2 separate regions of the Homo sapiens genome follow, and region 1 is reported to be linked to region 2. Evidence: microRNA targets listed by miRTarBase, many of them from high-throughput screens and not tested one by one. Region 2 holds a microRNA gene; the other region holds the end of a gene's coding sequence.

Region 1 (4,325 bases), not on the chromosome of region 2:
CTTTCCTTCGGCATCCAGGCTGCCTGTGACAGGACCCGATCGCCCAGCAGTAGATATAATAGCTGCCTCTTCTTTTCCCACCAGGGACCGGACCACCACGGTGGTGAATGTGGAAGGGGATGCCCTGGGTGCAGGCATTCTCCACCACCTGAATCAGAAGGCAACAAAGAAAGGCGAGCAGGAACTTGCTGAGGTGAAAGTGGAAGCCATCCCCAACTGCAAGTCTGAGGAGGAGACATCGCCCCTGGTGACACACCAGAACCCCGCTGGCCCCGTGGCCAGTGCCCCAGAACTGGAATCCAAGGAGTCGGTTCTGTGATGGGGCTGGGCTTTGGGCTTGCCTGCCAGCAGTGATGTCCCACCCTGTTCACCCAGCCGCCAGTCATGGACACAGGGCACTGCCCTTGCCAACTTTTACCCTCCCAAGCAATGCTTTGGCCCAGTCGCTGGCCTGAGGCTTACCTCTCGGCACTGGCATTGGGCTCCCCAGCCGGAACTGGTTACCAAGGACAAGGACACTCTGACATTCGGCTTGATCCATGTCCAGGTGCAACTGTGTGTACACCAGGGATCTGTTTGGAAACAACCCCTTGAGCTGCCAGGCTCAAGAAATCATGGACTCACAGGGTCCTGTGTGGTTACATCTTGGAAAAAATGCAGATGTATTTCACTCTCCCCGGTCAGCTCTGCATCAGGTGTTTTCTGAGCAAACCAAGGGGGTTTATAGTCATCTGTCGCATTGCCTCGAGTTGCAGTAATTGAAAAAATGCTCAAATTCTTAGCCATGGCTGGCCTTTGCTGAGCTGGGACTCAGGTGTTTAAAGAGTTTGTGCTATAGCTAGGTGTGGATAGCTTCTGATCCCTGGGTTCTGGGAGACTGCAGGTGCCGCACATTGTCAAGTTAGAAATACTCCAGGTGGGTGTTAGCACTGTGGTGGTCTCTGGTCCACAGCCTTAGGTAAACAACTTAGATTCTGAGGTCAAAGAAAAAAGGAGAGGGAATGCAGCCTTGTGGGGGAGAAGCGGGGCAGAGGGTTCTCTAATCTAATCAGGACAGGACAGGTTTCACATACAATTGTCCCAGTTCGCATCCCAGCCCTGGGGCACTTTTCTGCTTCCTTCCAGAGGCCTGGGCCTCTGATAACACTTTGGCTTTTTCTCCATTCACGCTGATTTGGCAAAAGGCCAGAGATGGGCCTCCTTCCCTGGGGAGGTGTGATGTAGTTATCACATTCAGGACCCTTGTTGATTTATCATCTATTATTTGAATTCAACTGGACACTCTGTAAAATGCTGCACTGCAGCAAAAACAAAACCACCACCACCCCAGAGAAAACCATGTACTAATTGGAGTGGGGTACCCCCATTCACAGGTTCCCAGGTCCCCTGGCTTTGGCTGATTTCAAAATATAGAGCCCTTTCTTGCCAGTACATCCAAGTTTAAAATTATCAGCGAAATGGTCCATGTTTTTCCAATTACCTGCTGACACGGTTCTAAGCTAAGTGAAGGGGAAGATCTGAGAGCGTGCTGTTTGTGGCTGTTGATGCATATTCGTGATGTAACAGGTCCTGGGGCCTCACTTTACCCCATTTGTAAAATGGGGCTAATGTCACCTGCCTCTTACCTACCTCAGAGGGATTTGGTGAAGCAAACTGTTAATCTTCGAAAACGACCATTTCACTTCTTGGATATCAAGTGCTAACCCAGTATGTTCTTCTTTTTTATGTAAGGGACAGCTTTCTCCACAGAGTCCTTTCTGCTGGTGAGGACAGCATTTCTGAGCAGGGCTTTGTTCTCTATGTGCATTAGGACTTTTATCATGCCCTTGTTCTGTGTGTAGTTACTTGACAGCATCAAATGCCGCCTCTTCCTAATGTCCTTCAAGTTTTCATGAACTAGCAACCCCACCTTCCACCATGGTTCTGGGCGCCTGATTTTGCTGTGACTCCCAGACCCAGCCACTGTTTCTGCCACCCTGTAACAGGCCATTAAAGCTCCCCAGTGTTCAGCCTCCTTCACTCCCTTGTTTTCCCTGTTGCTATGTGTCACCTGGGCCCTACAGACAGGGGCACACGCTTATGGATGTGTGTACCATTGAGATGAGAATGGGTAGATGGAACGGAGACCATCAAGCCACACCCCCTTCTTAAAACTGGGGACATGAGCCTGAGCAGAAAGGGTGAAGAAGAGCCATGGGACACAGAGTTGACCCAGCCAGGGGGAAAGCCCAGCTCTCTTTAAACCAGCTAAGCCATTCCAGTCTCCTGTGAAGCCAAAAGGGACCAGGAACCGTGCAAAGGAAACTGGAAACTTTTCCCCGCTGGGTAGAGCATGTTGCTGATACTCTTCTGTTTTCAAGGGAAACAATCACATTGTTTGATTCCAAATGGTAAATGAACACTCACTATTCTTCAGGCTTCAGTAAATCTTTTTTTCTTCCTTCATATATATATACACAACACACACACACATATGTATATCTATACACACATGTGTGTTGTGTATATGCATGTGTGTGTGTGCGTGTGTGTATAGTTTTAGCTCCAAGCCAAGCAAGTTTGTGTTTGGATAGAGGGGAACTTAACTATTAACTACAAGTTGTATGTCTGTGGTATCTTGATTTTCCCATTTCTAAAGATGAATTTCACAAAGCCATAAAGCGTGAAATTAGAGCTGGACTTAAGACTCATTGGCCGACCATCCTGTGTCCTGGCCTGGCCCTGCAGTAAGAAGCGTGTCTGGGTCTGGAGAAGGGTGCTTCCGAGAGTGTGCAGGTGGCCCTTCCCCTTGGAGGCGAGAAGAGAGAATGTGCTGTCTATCTTCCTGGTTTTCAGTCCACAGAGTCGGTAGACCAGGGGTTACGTGACTGGGGAAAATCTCACATCTCCTTGTCTGAAAACATTTCCCCTGCTGTTCTCTTTCTAACATGTTGTGGTAAATCTGTTCAGATACTGCTCATCTGACTGTTTTGTACATGTGACAATTGCCTTAAAACCTAGCACAGTCCTCAGAAATGAATACCGTGTTTCCACTGGAATCTGCAGTTCCTTTATTCCCTTCTTGTGTGTTGAAGCGGCACTTGCTGATGGAGGAGCTGTTGCTCTTCTAGGAGATGGGCTTTGGGTGACTAAAGGGATTTGTTTTCCTTGCTCCATTCATCAGGCACGAGCCCCTAAGTCAGGGCAGGCATGCTCAGGGGGCAGTGCTACCGCCGGAGCTGCTGTCGCTGATCCTTTTGCGGCCACCTGCTTGCAACTGGGAAGCGTCAAGCTGCTCAGGGGCTTCCCACTCCACACCAGCAGGGCTCTTGTAAAAAGTGTGTGGTTTTGCCACATACCTCCATAAAGTTATGTCTTGTCAGAACGACTAGGTCAACAGGCCCTAACTGAGCATCTACTGTAAGGCAAGCATTAAGTAGGAACAACAGGAAGAAAGCCCCAGGCCCTAGAATTCTGGGAAAGTCCCTGAAAGAGAGCAGTTGTCCATGCCTCTACTATGGCACCACCACACCTCGCCCATGCTTTTATATAATCTTGTTTTCAATGACACCACATTCCAGCAACATTAGGGAATCTAGACACCTCTTATAATAGGAATTATCCTGCAAACAGAGTGGAAACCTCTGAAGAAACAGATCCCCTGTCTGACCTGAACATTTCCAGCTCTTCATATAATACAGGAACTGGTTTTCATTTCTGGGCAATCCCCAAAGGATGAGGAGAGAGTTCACACCGATCAGGGGCCTGATGGGGCCTGCTAGGAGTAACGATTTGGATTCTTACCCTGGAGTGTGGTTGCCTTGACTCTCTGTTGTGGAGAGTGTTTGGAGGTTGGGATTAGTACTTGATGAGTCAGTTTTCTGATGTAACCAGACCAAGAGGAGCAAATCTACACTCAAACCATCTCTTCCCTGGGGATCAGAAGGAGCGCTGATCTGATGAGCTACTTGAACCTGCTCACGGGAACTGTAAATTGTGTCTGAATAGCACAGGCGATGTAGCAGGGAGGACCATGGGCTGTCTGGGTTCCACTCCCAGCTCTGCTGCTTGCTTGCTGCATGACCCTGGGCATGATAACCTCTCCATGGCTTAGTCTCATATTTAAAATTGGGAGACCGAGTGCAGTGGCTCACACCATCATCCCAGCACTTTGGGAGGCCAAGGCAGGAGGATTGCTTGAGGCCAAGAGTTTGAGACCAGCCTGGGCAGCAAAACAAGACCCTGTCACTATAAAAAAAAATTTAAAAATTAGCTGTGCATAAAAAATTAGCTGCACACCTATAGTCCCAACTACTCCAGAGGTTGGGGTAGGAGGATCACTTGAA
Region 2 (4,398 bases):
ATATTTTGTTCCCACTTTATCCTCAGGCAGCAAAATATGTTACATATGTTTCAACAGCAATATTGAAATAGAAAAGTGTTTCCTATTAGACCTGAGCAAATCAGAAAACAAAATAACCATGAAAATCACAGTTCTCAAATAATTGACTTGTAATTTTATCCTATGTATATAATGTTTGTAGGCGGTCTACTAGGGTACTTCAGTTGTTATTTTAGAGAATATGATAGGCGAAAACTCAGAAGCCCAGAGATAGAAAATAATTAACTAAGATCAGTAAGAAAGTGACCTTAATATAAATGAACTGAGGCAGGCAAAGAAGTCTATCAGATCAGGAAACATTTGATTTGGATCATAATCAAATAATCAGAATAATTTTATTCATTCTCAGTCATAAGAAAGTTAAGAAGGTAGCATAAACAACATTTTTATCATATTTTCCCTTTTAGATTGAACATACTTTTTTGAATAGTGGTGTGTACCAATCATTCTGCAATGTGCTTTGATAGACTACCATATTTCATGATTGCATTCTCTGCTCCTTTTAGGCTACAGATCAGCAGTTTTCATGTTTCACCCCTGTTTCCATTAGAAAAGCAATTCAAGTTAGATATAATATTTAAAATGTAGGTTTTCGTTGTTGATGATAACTGTTTCACTCTCTCTTGTTTCATCTAAAAAACACAAAAGTCTTGTTTTAAAACAACCATTGTATGATCACGACTAGGTCAGCAATTGAGCAGGATTTATCACAGATGGCTCATCTCTGCTCCATATGGCTGGGGTGGCTTGACTAGGGCTACACTTACATGCCTGGAACTGGAGGGTAACCAGTCAATTGGGGGTACCTGTGTTCCCCACATGGCCTTTTTCTGCAGCAGAATAGTCTAGACTTCTTTATCTCTTGGCTGGGTTCCCCGCCTACAGACGTGGAAGCTGCAAGTCTTCTTTAGGATCAGACTTGAAAGACTCAGACATCATTTCTGCCTCATGGCGTTGGTAAAAGAAAGTCACAGAACCAGCTCAGATTTAAGTTTGGGAAATGGATTTTGCCTCTTTACGGGAGAAGTAGCATGCACATACACATAGGCATGGGAGAAGTTTGCGGTGGCCATCTTCACAACCTACCACAATTATAAGACGAAAGCATATTTTAAGTTTAAAAATTTACATTATCTACATTTTCATTCTCTGCTTTCTTCCTCCTTTCTTCCACAGATGCCTGTATATTATTACCCATCTGGTCAGTACCCTACCTCAACCACGCAACAGTACCGGCCCATGGCCCCGGTTCAGTACAACGCTCAGAGGAGTCAACAGATGCCACAGGCAGCACAGCAAGCAGGTACTTGGAATCTGTTTCCCATTTGCTTCTCAACCCAGTTATTTTTGCTGGTGAATCTTGTACTCTTTGGATGAGTGTCCAAGCTTGGCAATTTAAACCAGCACATTTTCTCTACCCAGAGAAGATAACAAAGCATTTGATTGACTCTGTGTGGAAAAGTAGTAGGTACAAGAAGGTGAAGCATATGTCAGACTAGCATCCCTGGCATGCATGTTAAACAGTCTCCATAAATTATTTTTTGATCCTTCTTCTGTTAAAGCAGAAAGTCAACCATGTCCGTACCTTTCTAGTTCATACCTTCTTTTAATTTTTTTTTTCTTTTCAATTTGAAGAGAGTGCTTCCTCTGTTCTTAAGGCTAGGGAACCAAATTAGGTTGTTTCAATATCGTGCTAAAAGATACTGCCTTTAGAAGAAGGCTATTGACAATCCAGCGTGTCTCGGTGGAACTCTGACTCCATGGTTCACTTTCATGATGGCCACATGCCTCCTGCCCAGAGCCCGGCAGCCACTGTGCAGTGGGAAGGGGGGCCGATACACTGTACGAGAGTGAGTAGCAGGTCTCACAGTGAACCGGTCTCTTTCCCTACTGTGTCACACTCCTAATGGAATGCCGTTATCCAAAGAGCAGCACGAACCCGACAGGGCTGAGTGGCTTGTGCTAGGGAGAGGTTTGTGTCATTCCTGCTGACCAAACTGCAGGAAAAACTGCTAATTGTCATGCTGAAGACTGCCTGACGGGGAGACTCTGCCTTCTGTAAGTAGGTCATGTAAAGAGCACGTGCTCCTTGCTGCTACTCATAGATGCCTGCTCCGTGATCTGATTTCTGCACTGAATCTATGTTATGCATATGGAATGTATACAGATACATGTATGTAATATATACACAATATGTACCATTTTTATAACCTATGAGAAAAGTGCAGTTCTTGCCAAGGATTAGCACCAATCACAGACATCCTAAGAATACCAATGCTGACACTGCTAGCATCCTGTCAGATTGGAGAAAGAATTAAATTCCCCCGTATTGTGGATGGTTACATGTTCTTTGGTTTATCTCATGGCCTATTTAAAGTCTGTGGGAGAAGAATTAGAGAAACCTATATCTTCCAGCCAGATTTTGTCTTGTTTCAGCACTGTATTAGTTTGGGGAAGAATATATTTGACCTCTGAATTGACTTTAGACTTTTACAGTGTTTTGAGAACACTAAAGGGTTTCAAATAACTATTTATTTTTAAAAAATCACTTGGCAATATTTTCTCTAATTTGTGGAAAACGTTATTACCTTTATCATTTTGGTGGTAACGGTGCTATCAGTTTAGATACATGCTGTAGAAATGTGTTGCTTGCATTCTGGACTATCTTATTTTATGCTAACGTTAATTAAAGGGTTAATTTACAATCTTGAGGATCTTGGTTTAGAGGCTATGTGCAAGTTTTCTACTTGGTTACTAATGCCTTTAGAAGAAAAAAGATGCAGATATCTAATTATAATGATTTTTATTAGGTTTGGTGCCATTGTGTGGCAATTTTTAAAGAGATTATTTCAGTCTTGTGGTAGAGTGTCATCATACAAAGAAACGCAGTTACAAAACATGCTGCAATCCACTAAACCCATAAACTCTAGATCTATGTGAGGGGATGAGAAAGTTAGATGAATATGATAACTGGGCAACAGAATTAGATTTCAAAAAAGTTTAGGCCTCCCCCACTGACTTCTCCATTGCTTTTTCTCCTCTTCACTAACTTTGTTAGTGGATGTCAAAACAAGAGACAATATATGAGGCATTTTTTACTCTTTAATAAAGCACAATGGGAGAATTTAGGGATGTGGAAACACCCTCTCCCATTCAGTTAGAGACCTCACTGGCTCCACCTACATTCCATGGCAACCTGGTAGCTTTGGTTTGTCACATTCTCCCACATCACCGCAAAAATGACCCTCCCAAGGTAAGATAATGACACTGTAATGAGAAGAGTGCACTCTAGAGCAGCATCAAGCTAAATATAGAAGCAAGGCAGTGCCTAGGGTGTCAAGGAAGTGAGTGCCAGTTAATGTGGCCTGTACAGGGTGAGGAAGTGAGAAAAGTGAAATGATCATAAACAGTATTGTCCCCAGAAATGATGGCATTAGTATACACATGCACACTGAGACCTTTGGGCTCTTAGTTTTTGTGACCACCACACTGGATACCTGGCCTAAAATCCCAACACAGTTTCCACCACAGTGATGAATGTACCTAGTATTTGGGAAAGCAGATGGTGTTCCCTGACCTTACAGAGAATCACTTCTGCTAATAAAATCCAAGTAACCAGACCACACAGTGGCTCTTTGAGAGTGCACAGAGGCTCTGGGTCCTACAGCTGGGCGTCCTTTTGTTGAGCCTAGGGAGACTAACAGAAACTTTCCAAATGGTCATGGCAGTCATTTGTGAGAGCAACTCTATGTGGATGGACTATCTCATAGAGGAAAGAGCCTCTTCAGATAACTGTATAAGTTATATTTTCTGGAAGAACTAGAAAATAAGACTTCTCCATCTTTAAGTCAAACTATGGGCTACTATCAGCATGTCACCCTCCCACAGTCATGTTTTAACTTGTTCTTCCTCCTGCCTCCTGCAGCTGTGTGTCTTGGGATCTGACCCTTTTCCATCTTCATCTGATAATGACACCAGATTATGTCATAACATCCTCAGCTATCACGTGGTTAAAATTAGAGTGAGACAGAATTATGTCAGTTAAAGTCAAATGAGATTTTAATCTGAATTTGCTTCTTGGCGCTGTTCTTAATCTTTATTTAATTGCAGTAAAAAGCCTCTCTTCCTTCTCCTACATTCTTGCCAGAATTGAAATCTCTGTCAGTTACTACATCTTTCCTAAGACTTAAAACTCTACACAGTGAATTTTTGTAAAGTGAACTGGACACTATACTGTTGATTAAATAGGACACCTGAGTTCCCCTGTGGCACAGTAGGGAGACATAAGTTCTTTATCCTGGTGATTTTGTACTCTTCATCCGATCAGCACATGGTAAAAGGTCCTAAACATGTGGAAGA

What was found. Region 2 holds the annotated microRNA hsa-miR-128-3p (UCACAGUGAACCGGUCUCUUU, at 1,904-1,924, shown strand). A microRNA usually pairs through its seed, bases 2 to 8, with sites in the 3' UTR of a target mRNA and lowers its output. Matches are read on the target gene's strand: a 7mer-m8 pairs with bases 2 to 8, a 7mer-A1 pairs with bases 2 to 7 and ends in A, and an 8mer does both.
Region 1: the mRNA of SLC1A4 is a reported target of hsa-miR-128-3p. Seed matches in the 3' UTR shown: 7mer-m8 at 928-934.

Annotation. Positions count from the first base shown.
Region 1 is chr2:65,020,828-65,025,152 of GRCh38, forward strand. SLC1A4 (solute carrier family 1 member 4) reads left to right here. Exons shown (of 8, transcript NM_003038.5): 8 at 85-3,038. The coding sequence ends at 319. Among named protein-coding and RNA genes, the nearest start is that of LINC02576, 7.7 kb to the right of the region's middle.
Region 2 is chr3:35,742,624-35,747,021 of GRCh38, forward strand. It overlaps MIR128-2 (microRNA 128-2), which reads left to right and starts at 1,853; the gene lies at 1,853-1,936. ARPP21 (cAMP regulated phosphoprotein 21) reads left to right here. Exons shown (of 21, transcript NM_001385562.1): 19 at 1,216-1,342.